Regions from separate parts of the Homo sapiens genome. Here all the other regions are linked to region 4. Evidence: fine-mapped expression QTL. A gene starts in region 4. Each other region holds a variant in brackets. All regions are shown on one strand. Distances are from middle to middle.

Region 1 (5,605 bases), 99 kb after region 4:
GTATCCAGTCAGCAGGAATCGGCCTCAGGTTCCCTGCCTCCAGACCCGATTCTCCTGCCTCACTATCAGGTGCAAGACAAGGACAGGGTGTGCGCTGAGACACGGGTGCTGCCTGCTCCTGATTCTGGAAGGAGATATGAGGCAGTGATTTCCAAGCTTGCATAATTTGAGGGCTGCCTTTGTGATGTCGTCCCTCTCCATGCACCAAATAAACTGTCACCTAGTTAATATTTTGTATTTAGTTGACCCACTTTTTTTACTGAAATGGATTCATTTTGAAAGCTCCACTTCATCACCAATGAGAAACCACCATGCACCATGACTGGAGGGTGAAAAACAAAGGCATGCCCCCCAGACTAAAACCCGAGTGTCCCTCTGGTCAAGGGCCTCACAGGGAAGAGCCCTGCCAGGAGGCTGCAGCCCAGCGTGGAAATCCTGACTCTGGCAGTTGCTGTGTGATTCTGGGCAAGTCACTTAACCTCTCTGAGCCTCAGTTTTCTCCTCTATGGCATCAGGTCACTAACACCCCATGGGGGTTTACCTATGACAATGGATGCAAACTGCCCAAGTGCAGCAGGACTGTGAGGAACAGACAGGGGCACAGCTGCCTCCTGTTCCAGGTGTGAACAGTCTCCCTACCCTAACCTGGGGTCTCCAAATGTTCTGTCTTCCCCTGACTGAGGACTCTCATGGTGGACAAGTCAGGTGGTTCCAAACAGCCATGGCAGCCATTTCCTGGATGAAAGCCCGTGTTGGGAAAGAGCAGCTGGGAGCTGGTGAAAGCACACCGTTCACCCGTGTTTAATGCTTACCATGCACTACATCGCGATGTTTCAGTCCACCACAGAACACACCTACGACGGTGCTCCCAGAACACAATCACCAAGCCACGGGGAAGAGTCAAGCTGGGAACTGCATCAGGCAACCTGCCTCCCATTTTATCCCTATATAAGACAGCTGCAAAGACTGGAAGAAAAAAAAAAAGCTTCATACCTCCCTTGGGTATTTGAACCCAAAATATCTGAGACAGGCCTCAACCAATTTAGAAAGTTTATTTTGCCCAGGTTAAGGACACACCCATAACACAGCCTCAGGAGGTCCTGATGACATGCACTCAAGGTGGTCGGGCACAGCTTGCTTTTATACATTTTTAGGGAGACATGAGACATCAATCAACATATGTAAGATGAACACTGGTTTGGTCTGGAAAGGTGGGACCACTGGAAGCAGGGGCTTCCACGTCACAGGTAGCTAAGAGACAAACAGTTGTGTTCTTTTGAGTCCTCGATCAGTCTTTCACTGAATACACAACTTAGTCTGGCTCAGTGAACCTGCATTTCTACTAAGATAAAACAAACGTAGGGCACAGGAAGCCATCAGGTATGCATTTGTCTCAGGTGAGCAGAGGGATGACTTTGAGCTCTGTCCTTTGTCCTGTACCTGTGAATATCAGCTCTCCATTTACATTGTGAGGGTGAAATTTAACACAACTGTTTTAGGGTGAAGATCTTGGGGCCCACAAGGAATTTCCTAGGGAACAAATTGTGAGGGAGGTATGCAGCTTTTTAAAACCTATGCAGCCATCTTATTTAGGAATAGAATGGGAGGTTAGCCTAATGTAGTTCCCAGCTTGACTTTTCCCTTTGGCTGAGTGATTTGGGGGTCCCGAGATTGATTTTCCTTTCACACTTTGTGCGTCCCATCACCCCACAGCTGCCTCACACACCTGGTGTTTTCTGCATCTCTCAGTTGCACACTTTTCTCTTGTGCCTGATTTAATCTCGTGTGGTTTGTTCATCATGGTCCCTAAGCATACGAGATCCACAGCTAATGTTGCTGGTAAGAGACCAGTAAGAGTCATTATTGCCAGTGACTGACCTGAAAACGAAATGACAAGTGACTAAGGACCATGAAGGTGGAAAATCAGAGGTGGTTATGCTCGCCAGGCAGGCAGGTCCCATTCCACCAGAGCTGTGGCCCTGATGAGCAAGGACAAAGCGACAGCTGCTGAAAGAGCCAGCCTCTGTGAAAGCAAGGCGACCAATGGAAAGTGGAGGCCAAAAGGATCCGCTGCGCTGAGAGCAAGGTGACTAACGGAAAGTCGAGAGGTGCCTGGATCCAACATAGACTGAAGACCAGACAGAGGAGTGAATGCCTCTCAGCACTGTAACTGCCCAGAGGGTTCTCCTTGCCCACTGCCTACACCGAGCTGATGGATCAAAACAGGAAATTTGCAATAAAGAGCTTAATTCATGCAGAGTCGGCCGTGTGGAAGACCGGAGTTTTATTATTATTCAAATCAGTCTCTCTGAAAACTCAGGGATTGAGGTTTTTAAGGATAACTTGGTGAGTAGAGGGCCAGTAAGTCGGGAGTGCTGATTGGTCGGGTCCAAGATAAAATCTTAGGGAGCTGAAGCTGTCCTCTTGAGCTGAGTCCATTCCTGGGTGGGGGCCACAAGACCAGATGGGCCAATTTATCTATTTGGGTGGTGCCAGCTGATCCACTGAATACAGGGTCTGTAAAAGATGTTAAGCACTCATCTTAGGTTATCACAGGAGCAATTTAAGGAGGTTCAGAATCCCGCCACCTCCAGCTGCATTACTCCTACACCATAATTTCTAATCTCATGGCAAATTTGTTAGTCCTACAAAGGCAGTCTGATCCTCAGGCAGGCAGGGACTTTGTTTTGGAAAAGAGTTGTTATTGTCTTTGTTTCAAAGTTAAACCATTGTGAACCCCAAATATCTGAGACAGGTCTCAGTCGATTTAGGAAGTTTATTTTGCCAAAGTTAAGGATGTGTGCCCGTGACACAGCCTCAGGAAGTCCTGACGACATGTGCCCAAGGTGGTCGGGCACAGCTTGGTTTTATACATTTTAGGGAGACATGGGACATCAATCAGTATATGTAAGGTATACATTGGTTCCATCCAGAAAGGTGGGACAACTCGAAGCAGGGAGGGGACTTCTGGGTCATAGGTAGATAAGAGGCAAACGGTTGCATTCTTTTGAGTTTCTGATTGGCCTTTCCAAAGGAGGCAGGCAGAGACGCATCTATCTCAGTGAGCAGAGGTGGCTTTGAGTTCTGTCATTTGTCCACAAGGAATTTCCTTGTGAGGGAGGTATGTAGCTTTTTAATCGTAGTAGCTATCTTTTTTAGGAATAGAATGAGAGGCAGGTTTGCCCTAAGCAGTTCCCAGCTTGACTTTCTGCTTTGGGTTAGTGATTTTGGGGCCCCAAGATTTATTTTCCTTTCACACTGTAAACTAAGTTCCTCCCAAAGTAGGTTGAGCCTACGCCCGGG[G/A]ATGAACAAGGACAGCTTGGAGATTAGAAGCAAGATGGAGTCGGTTAGGTTAGTTGTCCTTTCACGGTCATAATTTTCTGTTATAATTTTTGCAGAGGCGGTTTCAGCACCACGGCGGTCATGGCCAGAGCAAAAAGTATGTTTTTGATGTTGAAAGGAAAGGCTGGACCTGACTTTGGTATCAGATTTACTGCCAGTTCCGGGTGGTTTACATGATTTGAGGATCGTTATGCATTACATAATGTTAACATGAATGCTGAGTCTGTGGGTGCTGATGTGAAGGCAGCTGAAGAGTTTTGGAAGCTTGATTATGGAGGAGATTTACTTGCCACAGCAAATCTTCAATATGGAGGAAACCTCGCTATTCTGGAAACAGATGCCTGAAAGAACTTTTGTATCTGCCCAAGGGGTTTTTCCTGACCACTGCACAAAGAAAGACCATGGCATTTTTGTAGAGAAAGAGTTTAACAGACACAAGGGTGGCCACGCCATGTGGGAGACTGAGTTGAGAGGTGACAGCGTGCTGGCAGTCCTCACAGCCCTCGCTCGCTCTCAGTGCCTCCTCTGCCTGGGCTCCCACTTTGGCGGCACTTGAGGAGCCCTTCAGCCCACCGCTGCACTGTGGGAGCCCCTTTCTGTGCTGGCCAAGGCCACAGCTGGCTCCCTCAGCTTGCAGGGATGTGTGGAGGGAGAGGCGCGAGCGGGAACCGGGGCTGCGTGCAGCGCTTGGGGGCCAGCTGGAGTTCCGGGTGGGCGTGGGTTTGGCGGGCCTGCACTCGGAGCAGCCGGCCAGCCCTGCTGGCCCCAGGCAGTGAGGGACTTGGCACCCGGGCCAGCGGCTGCAGAGGGTGTACTAGGTCCCCCAGCAGTGCCGGCCCACCGGCGCTGTGCTCGATTTCTCGCCAGGCCTTAGCTGCCTTTCCATGGGGCAGGGCTCGGGACATGCAGCCCGCCATGCCTGAGCCTCCCACCCACTCCATGGGCTCCTGTGCGGCCCGAGCCTCCCCGACGAGCACCACCCCCTGCTCCACGGCACCCAGTCCCATCGACCACCCAAGGGCTGAGGAGTGCGAGCGCACAGCGTGGCACTGGCAGGCAGCTCCACCTGCTGCCCTGGTGCGGGATCCACTAGGTGAAGCCACCTGGGCTCCTGAGTCTGGTGGGGATGTGGAGAGTCTTTATGTCTAGCTCAGGGATTGTAAACACACCAATCAGCACCCTGTATTTAGCTCTAGGTTTGTGAGTGCACCAATCGACACTCTGTATCTAGCTGCTCTGGTGGGGCCTTGGAGAACCTTTATCTCTAGCTCAGGGATTGTAAATACACCAATCGGACACTCTGTATCTAGCTGCTCTGGTGGGGCCTTGGAGAACCTTTATGTCTAGCTCAGGGATTGTAAATACACCAATCGGCACTCTGTATCTAGCTCAAGGTTTGTAAACACACCAATCAGCATCCTGTGTTTAGCTCAAGGTTTGTGAATGCACCAGTCGACACTCTCTATCTAGCTGCTCTGGTGGGGCCTCGGAGAACCTTTGTGTCGATACTCTGTATCTAACTAATCTGATGGGGACGTGGAGAACCTTTGTATCTAGCTCAGGGATTGTAAACGCACCAATCAGCACCCTGTCAAAACAGACCACTTGGCTCTACCAATCAGCAGGATGTGGGTGGGGCCAGATAAGAGAATAAAAGCAGGCTGCTCCAGTCAGCAGTGGCAACCCGCTCGGGGCCCCTTCCACACTGTGGAAGCTTTGTTCTTTCGCTCTTTGCAATAAATCTTGCTACTGCTCACTCTTTGGGTCCACGCTGCTTTTATGAGCTGTAACACTCACCGCGAAGGTCTGCAGCTTCACTCCTGAAGCCAGAGAGACCACGAGCCCACGGGGAGGAATGAACAACTCCAGACGCGCCGCCTTAAGAACTGTAACACTCACCGCGAAGGTCTGCGGCTTCACTCCTGAAGCCAGCGAGACCACCAGCCCACTGGGAGGAATGAACAACTCCAGACGCGCTGCCTTAAGAGCTGTAACACTCACGGCGAAGGTCTGCAGCTTCACTCCTGAGCCAGCGAGACCACGAATCCACCAGAAGGAAGAAACTCCGAACACATCTGAGCATCAGAAGGAACAAACTCCGGACGCACCACCTTAAGAGCTGTAACACTCACCGCGAGGGTCTGTGGCTTCATTCTTGAAGTCAGTGAGACCAAGAACCCACCAATTCCAGACACAGAGTCACTACTCAAATCATTCTCATCCAAAGCTTGTAGGATAGGGGTTTTTCAAAGGCAGTTTCGGG
Region 2 (5,605 bases), 85 kb after region 4:
TCACCCCCGGCTGTGTCCTCCTGCCTGCAGCATGGAGATGGGGTCGCTGGACGCAGCAAACAAGGGCCTCCTCCTGGTGAGAACAGCGACGTGGCGCAGGACTCCAGCGCCGCCCCTCCTGGGTGTGGTGTGGGGCCTGGGCAAGGACCTGGGTCTTTCCAAGCCTCAGTTTCCTCATCTGCGAAATGGGGACAAACACACCACTGCCAAGAAAACTGTTGGTCCTGACCAGGCCCCTTCAGGGCCACTGCCCCTCCCCGGCAGCTGGGAGTGCCCCCTGCAAGGGAAAGTTGCCCATGGTCAGTGCTGCCCTGGCTCGGAGTTGGGGCAGGGAGCAACTTCTTAGGAAGCACCTCCAATCGCATGAACAAGAATCCCCATCTCAGCTCTGCTTCTAGGGAACCCGGCCCAAGGCTGCCCACTTCACACAGGGCTGCCCGCAAGCTCCTGCCTGGGCACCTTACACAGCCACTCACTCGCCACTGCCACTCCGGGGCAGCTGGCATCTTACACATGAGGCCGGAGAGGCTCAGAGGGATCAGTGCCACTTTCTGCAGTGGACTCCCTCCCTCCCTCCCACCCCACTCCCTTTTCCCTCCCTCCCTCCGTCCTCAGGGCTGCAAAGGATCTCTTTGGTTCCTTCAAAGCCTCAGCGTTGCACTTGCAATGAATGTCCTGATGTTTTTTGGTTACCAGAGAAGAGTTGCAACTACAAAATCTCCGACGCATCTGTGTTCTCTTTTCCAGTGTCCATAGTAACTCCCAGTGTTACTCTGTCATCTGCTCAAGAGAGGGGTGATGGCTGGGCCCTCTCTGAGTCCTGCCAGCTGCCAGCCCTCCAGGGCAACGGCCGGGATGGTGCATGAGGCTGGGCTGGTCAGTGGCACTGCTGAGAAGAGGAAGGGGCCCCAAAGTAGGCGGCGGGAGGAGGAGGAGGAAGGCAGCCAAGGACACAGAAGAGACATTTGCTCGGACAGCGACGTTCTCCCTCTTCACAGGTGAGCATCTGTAAAGGAAGGGAAGGGTCTCACCCCAAACCCAACAGACCAAAGCCTTGGGATGTATCAGCAAACACGGGGTTGTGTTTGTGTGTCTGTGGGCTCATGGGAGGTGCAGAAGCCAGCACCTCACACTCATGGGGGATCTGCCGCCCAAGGCGCCGCAACCCCATGGCCACAGTCGGTCAGCCAGACCCCGGCCATGAAGGCTGAGGATGGGGTCCCTTCCATCCAGTCCCACGGACACTTCCGAATGTCTGCACCACTCAGAGGTGACTCTGAGCAGACATCAGGTTCAACTCCGCAGCCCAGCAGAGGGGACGAGGTGGCCAGGCCTGGCTGGGGGTCACTTGGGGAGGGGGCTTGGAGACTCCCATGGGCTCCCCAGGCCCAACCAATAACCCACACAACAGACACAACCCATGGCACCCAGACCCACCCTCAGGGCCCGGCAGGCCAACCTCCAGCCGCAGCCCCTGCTAATAACAAGGTCACGTCCTGAAAGTCCCTCCTCACCCTCCCACAGCCATACGAAATTGCCCAGGGGCTGCCTCAGGACCCCACACAGAAACCTGAGCTGTAAAACTTGCCAGATGTGAGGCCAGGTATAGTGTCTCATGCCTGTAATCCCAGCACTCTGGGAGGCCGAGGCAGGCAGATCACCTGAGGTCAGGAGTTCGAGACCAGTCTGGCCAACATGGTGAAACCCCATCTCTACTACAAATACAAAAATTAGCTGGGCATGGTGGTGGGCACCTGTAATCTCAGCTACTCGGGAGGCTGAGGCAGGAGAATCACTTGAACCTGGGAGCTGGAGGTTGCAGTGAGCCAAGATTGCACCGTCACGCTCCAGCCTGGGCAACAAAAGCGAAACTCCATTTCAAAACAAAACAAAACAAAACAAATCAAAGCAAAAACTGCCAGATGTGAGGCCACACCTAAGCTTCCCAGGGGGCCTGGGCTTTCTGGGCTCAAGGCTCTGCCTGCTGCCGGATCTGTCACTGGGGGACGGGGCAGGGGTGAAGGAGCGGGGGCCGGAACACGCTGTGTCTCCTCAAGTTTTTCCTGGACTCCTGTCTGTACATGGAGCGACAGCCCTGCCTCCAGGTGACCAGGGGCAGGACCCAGGATCCCAGCAAGCATGCTTGTTTGAACACTTTTTGGATGCAAGTAACAGAAATGAATTCTGGCTTCAGCCAGGAAAGAAGAAAACAGAAAGAAGGAGAAAGAGGAGAAAGGAAAGGAGGGGAAAGGGGAAAGAAAGGGGAGGGAGATGGCAGGATGGTCCCAGAACCCACAGGCAAGGATGCACGCTGAGCTCCGGAACGCCCAGAGCAGGCGCTGGGGGAGGATGGGAGTGCTTCCCGCACGCAGCCTTCCCTCCCGGGGTTTTCAGCCACATCCCTCTGGGTACAGTGTTACTCAGCAGAATAATTCACTGCCAGGCGATTCTGGGCTTCTAAACTATCAGCCAGCCCCTCAAATAGACTTGTCCTTCTTCGTTCACTTCCCCAATGTGGACACGCCCTGGCCTCGCCTGGTCGGGGGCCCCCATGGTGTGAGCACGTCCTCTGCTGTGCCCACATAGGCCAGGGCTGAGGTGGAGGGAAAGAGCCCCCTGTGCCTGCTCGGAGCCGGCCACACTTCTGCAGGGAACACAGCTCCATCCAGCTGTGGGGGCTGAGCTGGGAAGCCCTGAAAGGTGCCTGCTGGCCTCCAGGCCCAGGCCAGGTGGGAACCTGCTGTGGTCGCAGGCCTCCTTGTCCCTTCAGGCAGCAGCTGACTCCCTGTCCACAGCCAGCTGCGTTCCAGTGGGGAAGCTCCATCCCAGGCCTGTCTGATGACAATTCCACAATTCCACCCACGCTGCCTCCAGGAAGCTCTGCTGATGAGGTTCCCGTGGCCCTGCCTGTTGCAGGCGGCTGACCGAGGGCCAGCAGCCCAGCCAGCCCA[G/C]CTCACCAAGCAGCATTTCTCACTTGGAGCACGGCAGAGCTGGAGTTGTTTTTATATTTGTGCCAAGAAATGGCTCCAAGCACTGCAGACGTGGGCTCTGGCGGAGCCTCCAACAGGGCAGGCCACGCGGGGCCAGCAGCCTCCTTCCGCCCAGGGGCTGGCCCAGGAGGTGAGAATTCCACAGAGAAGTGCACACGTAGCACTTGGCCCGCTCCCCCTGGGGCAGAGCCATCACCTCCCAGCCCGAGAGGACCCCAGGCTGAGGGGGGAAGGGGCTGCCCAGGTCACACAGGGACCCTGGAATGCGGCAGAGCCCAGCACCAAAGGTTAAGTGAGGCCAAATCAGCAATGAGCATGGAGTGGTGCCCGGGCTGGAAGGACAGTCACTACCTCCCACCCCAGCAGGCGGCTGAGGGCTTCTTTGTTTTTGGTGGAGTCAGGATCTGGCTAAACAGACTGTTAAAGAAATGCGGAATTCCAGTCCATGCCGTTTTCTGGGTAACAGAGGGTTTAGGAGAAATCCCTTCTGCTCCACTTCTGTTGAAAATATTTCTGCACTCCAAGCGCCCTCAGCAGTGTCAGCAGGGCACAGCCCCTCAGCAGCTTGTGACACCCACGTGCCCTGGTCTCAAGGAGGTCCCCAGACATTGCACTGAGCACCAGGTCTCCTTGTGAATGTCCCCATGAGAGCAGGGAGTGCCCCTTCTCTAGCTGGTGTCCCATGTCCTCATCAGGAGCACATACTCAGGGCCACACAGCCCTCGTCCCCAACTATGGTGCTGTGATTTGCTGTGTGTATTCGTCCATTTTCACACTGCTGTGAAGAAATACCCAAGGCTGGATAATTTATAAAGCAAAGATGTTTACTTGACTCACAGTTCCACATGGTTGGGGAGTCCTCAGGAAACTTACAATCATGGTGGAAGGGGAAGCAGGCACATCTCACATGGTGGCAGGAGACAGAAGTGCAAGAAGGAGGAAGAGCCCCTTACAAAACCATCAAACCTCATGAGAACTCCCTCACTATCACCAGAACAGCATGGGGGAAACCGCCCCTGTGATCCAATCACCTCCCACCAGGTTCTTCCCTCAACACCTGCAGATTACAATTCAAGATGACATTTGGGTGGGGACACAGAGCCCAACCATATCAGTGGCCTTGAGCAAGTGTCTCAGCCTCTCTGTCTCTGCTTCCTCATCTGAATGAGAGGGTGACAGTGAGGACTCCCATCTCTTAGGGTTGCATGGGCATGAAACAGTGCAGCTAGTGCAGCGGAGGGCAGGCACATTTGCTGCTCCCCTTCCCCCACAGGGCGTGACTCATGCCCCCCACACCGGCTGCCTGTCCAGGGCCACGGAGGAACCCTGGGGATCTCCATCCACCCTACCACGTCTTGCAGACTAGGATGCCCGGGCTGCAGAGGTGCTGGGAGGTCAAGGTGGCAGAGCTGGGGCTGAGTGCTGGCCTCCCAGGGCAGGAGGCTCCTCCTGCACCCTTGAGCCTGGAGCACCCTCCCTGCATCTGGCCTCAGTGCACCTGACTTCCCACAGGCAGAGATGCCACCTCCTCAGGGGCTGCAGCCTCCTGTTCGCAGATGGAAGATGCAGCTCTGAGGGGTGAGGAGTCACAGCCGGAGCAGCACCCGGACAGAAGCCTGCTCCAGCCAGTTTCTGCCACCTCTGTCCTATCTCTCCTTTGAAAGGTGAGGGACAGGGACCTAGAGAGGCTGCCAGGGCCCTCAGTGTAGCACCGCCTCTTCCTGAGAGGTCACGCAGCCAGGAGAAAGGACAGATCAGCTGTTGTTGGTGGAGGGAGTGGGACATGGAGGGGGCATTCCTCTGCGGCTGGGGGCAGCATGCAGGGGAGGGTGGGTAGAGCAGAAGGTGAGTAATGACCAGAATCAGCAGGACCCAGACCAGGAGGCTGGGGGAAGTGGTAGATACAGCAACAGGTACCCTGCGGGGGCCTATTTAGAATCCAGAGAAGTGGCGTTCAGCCCCAGGGAGCTCAGGGACTGGGGTGGTGAGGCAGACGGGGCTGGCACTGGCAGGGCAGGGCTGCCACCATGGAGTGCAGTTTGCAGGTGCAGCCAGGGTGCCTGGGTTGTGACAGGGGCAAGAGCAAGGGTTTGGAGCAGACCCTTGAGACCCCAGGAAGAGCTCTGCCAAGCTTCAGTGCCCTCTTCCCCACAGGGAGGATGAAGGGAACTTCCTCCCGGGTGGAAGAGATGAGCTATTGAAGGTGGATACAGACTTGGCGCAGGTCCACACCCAAGGATTGGCAGGACCTGTGCACACTACAGACTCGGCACAGGTCCACACCCAAGGAATGGCAGGAGCTCCGTACACGCTGGGGGTCAGCATGGAGCCCAGGTCTGGACACAATGAGTGGGGCGGGGCAGGAGCTGCTGGCTGAAAAGCTGGAGCTGGCACAGCTCCAGGGGAGGAGGGCAGCAGCGCAGGCCCGGGAGGAAGAGGGAAGGCAGTAAAGCTGGCGCGGGTACCTGGCGGGGAAGGGAGCAGGCACGGGCAGAGGGGATTCCCTGCCTTAGTGAATGGGGGCCATTGCTCAGCCCTGCAGGAGCGCAGGAGACTTAGGTGGGCCATGGGGAAAGCCGAGGAGGTGGGGACATGAGCAGCATGGAAATGGTGCT
Region 3 (5,594 bases), 32 kb after region 4:
TTATTAGATTGTAGCCTTGTCCAGGATTTTTCAATTTTTATTATTTTTTACAATTTGGACTGAATCCTACAATTTTTCCTGGCTACAAGTCTCCAGAATAATATTTTCAATTTTTTTCTTTCTTTTCATTGTTTTCCCTTCCATCTTCTCCTGATTTAGAATCACAAAAAAATTAAAGCGGTGCCTTTAAGCCCTGTGAGCTGAAGCTAGACAAACCTTGAAAGACAATAACAGCAACCTATTGATATATTAAGACCTAAGCTACTTTCATCCCTGCATACTGACTGACGTATGGACTTCAGAGGCATATGGCCTATGTCAGTTTTCCAGGATTGTTTTCCTTTTTGTTGTTATTCCTCCCATTGTTTTTCTCTTTTCCTCCCCTATTTTTCTCTGTGAGACTCGAGACTACATAACTTACTAAAAGTCAGCTTTCCTAACCACCTGGGACCTAAGCCATCTCAGAATAAACCATCCTAGCCACGAGAGACATCAGACAAAACCCAAGACCAGAGACTCAGTTTTCTTCTAAGATGCTTTCTTTGAAAGATTTTTTTTAATGGGGGTGGGAGGAGAAAAGTGAAAGGAAAATAAAATCTTGAGCACAATTCACTATGTCAACTGGAAGAACATTAGTCTGAAAGCCCCACTGTGCAAGAAGCTGCCTTTCCTCTTGTTCCTAAGCAGATAGAGAGCTACAGATAAAAAGTTATTTGCACAGATAGCAACTCTATGAGCACAAGACAAATACCTAATTGACTATTTCCATACCTGCTCCCTTTCTCTTGCAACATAAGGATTCACTAATGCAACCACACCCTCCCTTTTTCCCCTCCAGCCTGCTTCTCCCTTTTAAATATTGAGGCCCTCAAAATCATTTTTGGAGAATGGCACAGACCACCCACCGTTTTTGTCAATCTGTGTTCTTTTCTTCTGAGCAGGTCCTTAACCCTGGCAAAATAAACTTCTAAACTGATTGAGACTTGTCTCAGATACTTCTTGGTTTACAAGGATGATAGCAACAATGGTGAGGGTGGCGGTGCTGATAATGGCGGTGATGCTGGTAGTGCTGATGGTGGTCATGAAGGTGCTGCTGGTGGTGATGATGATATGCAATAATAACGAGGGTGATATTCACATTTAATTGTCCTCACCGTGTCCCAAGCCCCATGCTAGGAGCTTTTTTTTTTTTTTTTTTTTTTTTGAGACAGAGTCTCACTCTGTCGCCCAGGCTGGAGTGCAGTGGTGCAATCTCAGCTCACTGCAAGCTACGCCTCCCAGATTCAAGCAATTCTCCTGCCTTAGCCTCCCAAGTAGCTGGGATTACAGGTGCCTGCCCCCATCCCTGGCTAATTTTTGTATTTTTAGGAGAGACAGGGTTTCGTCATGTTGGCCAAGCTGGTCTCGAACTCCTGACCTCGTGATCCGCCAGCTTCAGCCTCCCAAAGTGCTGGGATTACAGGCGTGAGCCACCGCACCCAGCCTAGGCACTTTCCTGTGTTACCCCATGCAGTCCTCTCGCCAAGCCTATGCAGTAGATATTGTTACTCCCTCTATTTTTGGAGAGAGGAAACCACTACCCAGGGAGGATGAAAACCTCACCCAAGGCCCTGCCTGTGGCCAGTGGTGGAACTGAGAGACACAGCTGTTTACCTCCACGGGCTGTTGCAAGAACGCCTGAGATTAGGTGGGAAAGAGGCTGTGTGAAACGCCAAGCCCAGAGGCCTTCCCTGAGGACGGTCCCAGAGAAGGGGAGGAGGGTGAGAGCAGGAGGCCCCAGGAGGGGTTCAGACGCTTCCAGCAAACAGAGCAGAAAAGCT[G/A]GTTCTTTCACACCCAACAGACTGACTCAAAGGTCAGAGCAAGATTTGATTCAATGTCTTAACATCCATCATGCATCACTCAATAAACATTTACTGAGAGCCCCACACAGAGTGGTGAGTCTTAGGGAAATCTTCCCGGCTGTGCCAGCGAGCCAGGCTGGCTGCAGAGTCCTGGGCTCAGTGGGCCCCTCTTCGCCCCCAGACAGCTCCTCCCCCGGCAGCCCAGCCTCTTCCCAGGGGGAGCTCACTCACCTCCAGCCTCAAACCTGAGAGAAGCCCGGGCCCGGTGGAGAAGCGATTGTACTTACCTCTCTCCAGCTCCATGCACAGTACCCCGCATTGGTAACTGGAGATGGGCTGCAGTGGAAGTATTCACACTGTGGAACCGACAAACATTTCCAACCAAGGCTCCTGTCCTGCGGGGCTGGTTGTTCAACATCTACCAGCACAACACTGTCCAGGCCCCAACCCTCCCCCTAGCTGTGGCCTCTGCAAGGCCAAGTCTGGGGACCCTGAGGCATGGAGGAGGGGTGTACGAATGGCCTGCCTTAAGCTGCTGACAGTGTTGAGGCCCCACACGGCCCTGCAGCCAGCAGGCCAGTAGGAAGGACAAGACCCCAAACCAGATCCGTTTCCAGAGTTAAGGCTTTGCCGTTGATTGTCCTCCATCTGATGCCACAAAGCCAAACCCAGGCCAGGACGGATGCCTGTCCATGGGAGCGAGGGAGGGAGGCTACCTCTCAGCCCCTAGCACAGACAGAAACTAAGCATCTACCAAGCACGGCTCAGGTGCCATCTATTCAGATGGTGGGGCGGGGTGCCGAGGCTCAGAGAGAGTGAAAGGGTGAAAGGGTTTGTGGAGGGCCTGCCTGAATAACTCCAGCCTGTCTGACACTTGTGCCCTCGGAGAGACTCCCTAGATAAGGCTAGAGATGACCTCACCTCCTCAAATACAATGCAATGGCACCTGGTCCACTCTTGACCTCTGGGCTTGTTTAATCATGGGCCTCCCCCTTTAGAGGCAGGGGTAAGGGCTTGAACTTTGTGGTCTCTGCTAGACTCTGAGCCTTTCCAGAGACTGCACATAGTAGGTGCTCAACAAATAATTGTGGAATGAAAGAATAGTTGAAAAAGCCTAGTTCTCACAGCTGGATTATGACGATGGTATCAGTCAGGGTTCAATCAGAGGAGCAGAGCCAGTGGGAGGTTTATCACAAGGGATTTATTGCAAGGAATTGGCTTAGAGGATCACGGAGCCAGTTAGGCGAGTCTGAGGTCTATAGGGCAGGTCATCAGCGGGGCTGGCTGGAAGTTCAGATGGGCTGCAGCTGCTGCCCCCAGGATTGATTCCACTCTTAGGCCTTTCAACTGGCCGGATCAAGCCCACCCGGGTGATCTAGGACAATTTCCTTTAAAGGCAGCTGATTGTGGACTTTAATCACACCCACAGCTGATTATGGACTTTAATCACACCCACAAATACCTTCGGAGCAACACCTGGATTCATGTTCGACTGGATACCTGGGCTCATCGCCTGACCAAGCTGACAGCTAAGACCGACCCTCCCAATGCCCATCAGAGTGAGCTGAAGGCACAGCTCGTCAGCATCACCACTGCCCCTCACTGGGTGCCTGTTTGCCTGCCTGTCTCCTCTCGGGCTCCTTGAGGCTGGGGTCTGTGACTTGGTCTTCCCTCGATCCCAGGAAGTGAGCAGGTGCAAGGGAAATTTGCTGCCCCAAAACATGCAGGATGGTGACTGCCTCGCCCACAGCCCTGCTGCGGGAAGCTACAGCCTGGGAGAGACAGATTGCGGGTCTCTAATTTGGGTGATCCTGTGGTCGGTCGGCACCCCTTCCTGCTGAGGCTGAACCAGCATTTCCAGGGGCCCTGCCATCCACGCCACCAGAGATCTCCCTAAACTACATCAGTTTCTCTTTCCTCTCTTCCCACCCAAACTCACCTGTCCAGGATCTCGTCCCTGAGGCCTGGCTCTCTGCCGGTCAATGAGGGGCACAATGTACACCTTCACGGAGAGCTTCAAGGCCTGATCCATGGCATGAGGTGTGCAGCGTGCTCCCGACTTGGAGCCAGAAGACCCAGCTTTGGGCAGGCTCTGCAACCTGGGTGAGCCCTCACCCTCACTGAGCCTCAGTGTCCCTGTCTGCAAAATGGGGGAAGCAGCACATTCCCTCGGCACAGCCCGACTCTGGAACAACAAACGTATGCCAAGATGCCAAAGATTCTCACCCTCCCCTGCGGCTCGGTGCTGGCCAGGGAAATGGGGGCCGAGCTGTGGCCAGTGAGGGCTGGGCCTGGCTCCACACTCAGGATGATTGAATTCTGCATGGTGGCTCTGGCCGGGCTTCCCGGACAAGCCTGGGTGAGTCAGGAACAAGGCAGGCCTGGGTGGGGCTGGGGGAGGGCAAGAGTGTACAGCATGCCACCATGGCCATTCTAACAACACCTCCCCAGCATGGCACCCCGCCTCTCCACTGCCCCCAGATCCCAACTCCCACCCTGGAAACGTGGAACAATGGGAAACTTCACCCCCTTCCTTGGGGCACAACTGAGGCTAAGGTAGAGAAGGCGACCCGTGACTTCCTGGAAGGCCGGGAAGCAGAGAGCCCAGCTGACCCTCACTGCCCTTCCACGAGTCCCAGCACTGTCCCTGGCCCATTCTTCATCACTGCCGCCTCTCAGTGGGAAAGCCAGCCAAATTCTGTGCCAAGCCAGGAAGCCAGTCCTGGGGACAGGGTGGGCGAGCTAACAGGTAGGTGGCACCAAACATGCCCTGCCTAATCAGTGCCCCCCCACCGCCCCCCAAGCACACCTGAACCAGCTCCCAGGGTCCTCAGGCAGGTGCTGGGTCACAGCAATGATCAAGGAGGGGTGGCCTCTGGGGTGGACAGACAGACAGACCCGGGCACAGGGAGGTGAGGGATCAGGAGGGGCAGATGGGAGGCCCCCAGCCCAACCTTGAGCACTGGGGTGAGCTCTCAATGGTTGGGGCCTGTGCCGAGAGCTGTGGGCCAGGGTGGGAGCTGGGAGCAGGCTGGAGGAGTGACCGTGGCAGAGGGAGCGGCAGGGGTGCCAAACACTGCTGTGGTGGGCTGGGGGCAGCTCGAAGCCTCTTGTTGGAGCTGGATTCCCAAAGCAGCGGGTCAGCGGGGGCAGATGCTTTAAAGGGTCCTGTGCTGAGCGGAGGGTGTGTGGGAGGGGCACAGGTGTCCCAGAGCTGGGGAAGGGCTGCCCCACTTGTCCCGAGGAGAGGACGCCAAGGGCCCGAGCCCGGATGTGGCAGGGAAGGAGGCTCACAGCACCCACTTCACAGATGAGAAAACTGAGGCTGCCAATGGCCCCCGCCCATTTTGGCTGCCTTGTGATCATGTTGGCTCTGGGGTAAGTAACCTCTCTTTCCACATGCCATGAAGGGTTGGCACTCTGAGTACCTTCTTCTTTTCACTAAAAATTCCCTCCCAGAACCCACTTTCCGCTTGTTCACAGGACCCGCTGGCGGGGCCTCCCACCACAGTGAGGAGCCACGAGGGTCCCCTAGTTGGATGCTCAGGTCACACTGCCCTCGGACTTTCTGCACAAAATGCTCAGGCCCCTCCTCACCTCCAGGCCTCGGGACCAGTCACACAAGAAGTACTCTCCGGGTTTGTTTGTTTGTTTTTATAAGAGGAAAAAAATGCCCAACAGAAAACTGACAAAGTAAATGAACAGGAAATTCACCAAAAACAAAAAAACGTAAATACTGTATACAGATGGACC
Region 4 (5,594 bases):
CTGGTCTGAAAGCGGCTTTTGAAATAGTTCTAAGCCTCTTAACCACGAGGTGGCAGCATTTCTTCAACAGGGGAGTGACAGCCCGTCAGTCCTCCCCCTCCTCAACTGACCAGTGGCTGTGCCTGGGTCAGGGATGAGACCTGAATGAGGTCAGAGAGGTCAGGCCATCTGCCCAGGTCACACAGCAGAGTTGAGGAGTCAGAATCTGAATCCCAGACCCTAGGACATGAAAATTACCTCCGTCCCCAGGCTCCAGTGAGGACAGGGAATCTTCCACCAGGGAAGGGTGAGGCAGAGAGGAGAGAGCACCAGGCTTGCTCTCAGCAAGACCCAGATGGCGAGACAGGGACATGGCAGCCCGGGGTGGGGGACCTGCACTGCAGGTGACCGGCTCTGCCCACTTCTGCCTGTGGGCTGGAAACGTCCTTGACTTCCACACTCGTCCATAAGAGGGGAGACTGGACTGGGGGATGAGTGATTTCTCCCAGAAACACTTGCCGATGCCACGGCTGTGCTCAGCACCTGCCAGGGACAGAGACCAGCCCATGCATCCTGCTGGGTGAGGACAGGGTGGTCTGTGCTGCCTGCGTGCAGAGGAGGAGGCTGCATTTCTTCCTGGGAAAGGGCAGGTCAGGAGAGCTTCCTGGAGGAGGGGGCTGTGGTCTCCAACAAGCCTATGATTCTAGATACTGTCTGGGCTCTCAGGGGCCAAGGGGAGGCCCACCCACAACACGGCACAAGCTCCAGCAGCACCCCACCTGCACACCTGCATGAGCACACACGCAGCGGGTAGAAAAGAGCCCAGAGGTAAGGCGAGGAGCAGAGGTGGGAGGAAAATCCAGGCATCAACAGGACGGAAAGGAAAAGTGTCGACACAGCGCACTGGGGTGGGGTATTGTGGTCCTGGCACATCCACTCGCAGGGCTCAGGCAGTTCTCAGGTATCCACAAACCCCAGAGAACAAGCGATTCAGAACCTGACACCCTGCACCCTTGAACCCACACACGGCCCCACTCCCGCAGGAGCCCAGATGTCTGCTTCTGATGAGAGTCCTGAGCACGGTTGGCTAGATGCACCCCCACACCTGGAGAGGCCGTGAGGCCAGACGGGAGCCCAGGATCCAGCCCCCAGCCTCTACCTTCCTGCTCCCCACCCCCGCTGCACACCCCTTGGGTGAGGTCGTGCGGGCAGACCTCCCAGAGGATCCCTGCGTCCATTCCCTCTCCGGGCCCCAGATCCCTCCAGGGGGCCCACGCCCCCTCCCAGCCCTTAGGGCCACTTCCGGAGACTTGCTGTCCACATCACAGCCCCAGCTGGGAGGGAGGGGTCAAGAGTTTGCCACAGCCCAGAGAGACTGTCCCGTTCCTGGAAAGACCCGGGGACCTTAGATGGCCTCTCACCCTGCAAAGTCCTGGCACCTGCTCCCTCGAACCCACCTGCAGGGCGCCCCTGCTGCTGTGTCCGACAGGAAAAAGATCTCACCCCCCGGCCCAGGCGTGGTGACCCTCTGCTGCCTGGGGTCCCGGCCTGGATGCCGTAGAGAGCCTCCCTGGTGTCCCCGTCCAGGGGAGAGGTCACACTACCAGTCCCAGGCCACATGCTGCCCACTTTGGAGACGTTCTCGCCAGGACCATAGGCGCGTGACCTACTGGAAGAAAGCTCCCGGGCCCCTGGGAAGCGACGGATCACACTCCCCAGAGGTTGCAGGGTGGAGGGTGGAGGGTGGGGGCAGGGGACGGCCTTACCGGCGGGGTTCCGCTCAAACTCGCACCCCGGCCGGGCAGCGGCGACGACCAGGACTGTAAGGAGCAGCAGCGGCAGCGGGGGCGGCATGGTGGGGCGGCGGACCTTGGACGGCCAGCGCAGTGATGTGGCACTCGGGCCGCGCGGGGCCGGGGCTCTGCGCTCGCTGGGCTCCCGCCCCCGGCGCAGGGAGGGCGCCCCAAACGCAAATGCCGGAGTCGGGTTACAGTGGGCAGCGCCAGAAGCTAGAGAGAGGATGCCGCTGGGGGAGGAGGAGGGGCAGGACAGCAGATAAAGGCCCCTGCCTGCCCCGGGCGGAGTGCCCCGCCCCGTCCAAGGGGCTCCCCGCCCCTCCTTGGGCCTCAGTTTCCCCATCTGCCACCTGAGTGCACTGTGGAGCTGGTATGCAGATTCCCTGCTGATCCTGCCTAAAACCCCTGGTCCCCTGCACAGGCTGCGTCGCGGGTGAATGCGGGTTCTGGCTGCAGCGCTGATCCCAGCAGACCAGGGCCTGTCAGGTGAGGAAAGTGAAGGCATGTCCCCACCTTTTGACCCTTGTCCCCTGTGTGGATGCGGGGAGGGGGCTTTGCTGGGTGGCTGGACCTTTAGGAGCCATGTGCCTCATGGGTTCCTTTGCCAGCTATACCAGTGCACCAGTAGCAGTCCCCAGAGCCAGCTGCCACTCAGCCAGCCCTGAGACTTAGGACAAGCCCCTTCGCCCAGAGGCTGGGGTAATGGAGACAGTACTCACTGTGGCCCCAACTCATTGCTGGCACCCAGCAGGTGCTGCTTCCTGCAGGTCATCTGCTCAAAGATGCCCATTTCAATACCCCCCGGGATCTGGGGCGCCTGGTGCTCAACCTTGCCCTCTCTCTGCCTGGACTCAGCTGGGTCCTTCCAGAAGCAACTCTGACTGCCCCGGCCAGCCTCCGGGGCCACAGTCTTTGACTTCCCTGTCTGAGCTTTCCAGCCCAGGTCTGAGGGCGAATTCAGACTCCATGCTTTCCCGAGCCCCAGCTGGCAGTGCACAGTCCCAGGGAGGGTTTTCCTCCTCCTCCCTGAGAGCTGGGGTGGGGACACCGTGCCTCCTTGTTGTCCCCTGCTGTGGCAGGCTTAGTTCTCGTGGACGCTGAGCGTTCAGCCGTGAGTGGCCCACCTGTTGAGGGTGTCTCCTAGCACAGCCCTCATTCTGGGCTTTTCCTTCCCAGTGGTACCTAAAACAGACAGTTTAAAATCAACGGCATTTTAGATTTGAGGAAATTGAGTGCTAGCTTGTGTCACTTTTTAAGACTCGGGGAGAAGAATTTGGTCATCTTTCCTGGAACCAGCTTCTCTCTTCCACAGTTAAGTTGGAAGGGACAGCCTCTAATCCACAGCGTCTCACCCACGAGGGCCCAACCCACCAAATGGTTCATCAGGGGCAAATCACAAGACAGGGTTAATCGTTCCCAGGGGTAAAAGAGGCATCCAAGTCGTCCCCATCACACCAAATCCCCAGACACTGTCCAGCCAGCCCAGCGGGCAATAGGCCACGGGGAGAGGACCCAGCCACACCTGTGCAGTCAAGGTGGGGCCAGTGAACCAGCAGGTGTGGCCAGAGCCAAGTCTGCAAGAGCACAGCCCCTGGGGCCGGGTGTGTGGTCCCATGGGGGGTGCCCTGCAGGACAAGTTTCTAGGAGAGAAGCCACTTTGTGTCATCAAAAGAGCACAGACTCACCGCTCAAAAGAGCGGCCCACCTTGGGGCTCATGAGGTTGGGGTAGGGTCAGCATGGCAGCCGGAGGAGCCTGTCAGTCGTTGGAAGCCTGCTCCCCAGCTGGACATGGTGTGTGCATGCCGGCATCCCCAGCACTTGCTGCAGAGCGGGTGCTGGGGATAAAAGTGGGTCTGACCCTGTTCCTACCCACCCTATGGCTGGACCCTTGAGAGAAGGGTGCTGGGGCTATGAGCACCTGAGGAGGGAGGGTTGTGTCTGCCTCAGTCAGGTGGAAGGACTTGGCTAAGCAGAGGAGGAGGAAGTACCAAGAGAAGGCCCAGAAAGGATCCAGGCCCCCTGGGGAGAGGCCAGTAGACTAGGGCACCCAGTACTTTAGCCCGAGGCCACGTAGATAGGAGTGGGGAGCAGTGAGGACAGAGAACAGAAAGGGCCAGCAATGCCAGGCTCAGGAGCAGAGACCATAGCCTGGGGACTTCTCAGGGCTTCTGGCAGGAACACAACCTGCTCTCAGCTGCATTTCTAGGAGCTGGCTCTGCTTGGTGGAGGGTGGGTGAGAGGAAGGACTGCTTCGACAGGGACCAGGAAGGGTTCTGGAGGCTTGGCTACGGATGGGTGCCCAGGTGAGGCAGGAGGGCGAGGGTCAGCAAGCACAGAGGGGATGGAGAGAGGGCTCCTGGCTCAGAACCCCTTCTGGCTGAGTTTTGTATCCCATGTGAACAGGAGGGAGGCTCAGGAGAAGCAGATCATGGTCTCAAAAGGACAAGAAGGCAAGCTGAGAGAGAGGACTGTCACTCTGGGCTCCCACAGGGCCTCCCTCTGCCTTACCCGTCATGGAATGCTGCAGCCCTCTGACAGATGGAATCAATAAAAAAACTCCGGTCCCCCAAATAAAATAAATGAGCAGTTATGTCCTGCAAGCTCCCTGCCAGCCTCACAGCCCCCACGGCTCTCTGCTTCCCGCCCACCCACGGGAAAGCCTCCCAAGCTTGCAGCTCCACCGTCAAAACAACAGGAGAAGGCTCCCTCGCTCGCTGCACACAGTGCAGGGCCTAGCCTGGAGGTCTTGGAAGCCCAGCAGGGGATTGCCTGCAAGCCCAGGCATCTAGAAAGCTCTGCTATCCTGGTAATTGGACTGTGGCTAATGCACGGCAGAATTCCCCCCTTTCCATGGAAATGAGACACCCTCTGAATAAAATGTTTATTGATTCACAGCATTCTTGAGACCCAGCATCATTCCACAACACGTTTAAGTGCACATGAAAAATATTTTTCAAATTAAAAAAAAAAAAAAAAAAAAGGCCACAAGCCTAAGGCAAGGGATAGCCCAGTGTGGGAGCCACATGGGCTGGCAGAGAAGTGCGGAGGGAATGCCCTAAGATGCCTGCTCCAGAACATTCCATGGAGCTGCCGAGGAAGGCGAAACATGACAGCAAGCAGTCCCCGTCTCTAAGAAACAGTGTGCCTCCCTCTAACCATGGTGCCTTCCAGCAGGGCAGGGTGCACGCGTTTCCTTGAGTGGCTCTAAAGTAGTGACCAAGGCTTTTAGCCTGGCGGAGATGCAATAACACAGAGTGTAGGCCCCACTGGCTGGCAGGCTCCTCGCACCTGGGGAGCTCCCAGGGACAGGAGAGGGCTCAGCCAAGGAGCTCACAGCCTGGGCTCCAGAACTTTAAATGGGGAACAACCTGCTTCTGCTGTGCACGTGCCCTCCCTTATAAGCACAGGGGCACCGGGGTGCAGCACGGTCTCGAGTTCACGTGCCCTCTGTGAACCAGGGCATGACACCCACCTGTGCCCTCTGTGAATCAGGGCATGACGCCCACCTGCCCCACCTCCTGCTTGGAACCCCTGGGTTGGATTGAACTGGCCAGGTCTGTATTTTAATGTTTTTAACTGCTTCCTGACCACATACCTATAGTTGTTATTATTCCAAACGATAATTTGTTTTATTTGAATTACACTTCATGGGTTATACACACCTTTAAATTTATCCTTTTGGGGGAGGCATTGGTGAGTCAGCAAATAACACCTGGTTTTGGCTGGGTGTGGTGGCTCACACCTGTAATCCCAGCACTTTGGGAGGCTGAGGTGGGAGGATCACTTAAGCTCAGGAATTCAAGACCAGCCTGGGCAAC

Direction of the effects. Alleles are on the strand shown, and positions count from the first base shown. SD is a standard deviation of normalised expression in the study named. Not every link is listed here.
With allele A in place of G in region 1, the expression in subcutaneous fat of the gene that starts at base 1,902 in region 4 is lower (small effect, 0.30 SD a copy in GTEx).
In carriers of allele G in region 3, the expression in esophagus mucosa of the gene that starts at base 1,902 in region 4 tends to be higher than with A alone (small effect, 0.22 SD a copy in GTEx).

Evidence for each region. PIP is the estimated chance that this variant, and not a neighbour inherited with it, causes the effect.
Region 1: its variant is the best candidate, but not a certain one, in a credible set for the expression of CPZ in subcutaneous fat (GTEx, PIP 0.50).
Region 2: its variant is the best candidate, but not a certain one, in a credible set for the expression of CPZ in lung (TOPMed, PIP 0.78).
Region 3: its variant is the best candidate, but not a certain one, in a credible set for the expression of CPZ in esophagus mucosa (GTEx, PIP 0.67).

Annotation. Positions count from the first base shown.
Region 1 is chr4:8,490,178-8,495,782 of GRCh38, reverse strand. It overlaps a transcript of TRMT44 not described here. Among named protein-coding and RNA genes, the nearest start is that of TRMT44, 52 kb to the right of the region's middle. RefSeq lists enhancers at 4,125-4,643, 4,751-5,467. The variant G/A (reference allele first, on the strand shown) is at 3,304.
Region 2 is chr4:8,504,199-8,509,803 of GRCh38, reverse strand. It overlaps a transcript of TRMT44 not described here. Among named protein-coding and RNA genes, the nearest start is that of TRMT44, 66 kb to the right of the region's middle. RefSeq lists an enhancer at 4,735-5,605. The variant G/C (reference allele first, on the strand shown) is at 2,952.
Region 3 is chr4:8,557,168-8,562,761 of GRCh38, reverse strand. No RefSeq gene overlaps it. Among named protein-coding and RNA genes, the nearest start is that of GPR78, 20 kb to the left of the region's middle. RefSeq lists an enhancer at 2,077-2,791. The variant G/A (reference allele first, on the strand shown) is at 1,821.
Region 4 is chr4:8,589,073-8,594,666 of GRCh38, reverse strand. It overlaps CPZ (carboxypeptidase Z), which reads right to left and starts at 1,902. Exons shown (of 11, transcript NM_001014447.3): 1 at 1,746-1,902. The coding sequence starts at 1,833. It overlaps GPR78 (G protein-coupled receptor 78), which reads right to left. Exons shown (of 3, transcript NM_080819.5): 3 at 4,644-5,594. RefSeq lists an enhancer at 225-899.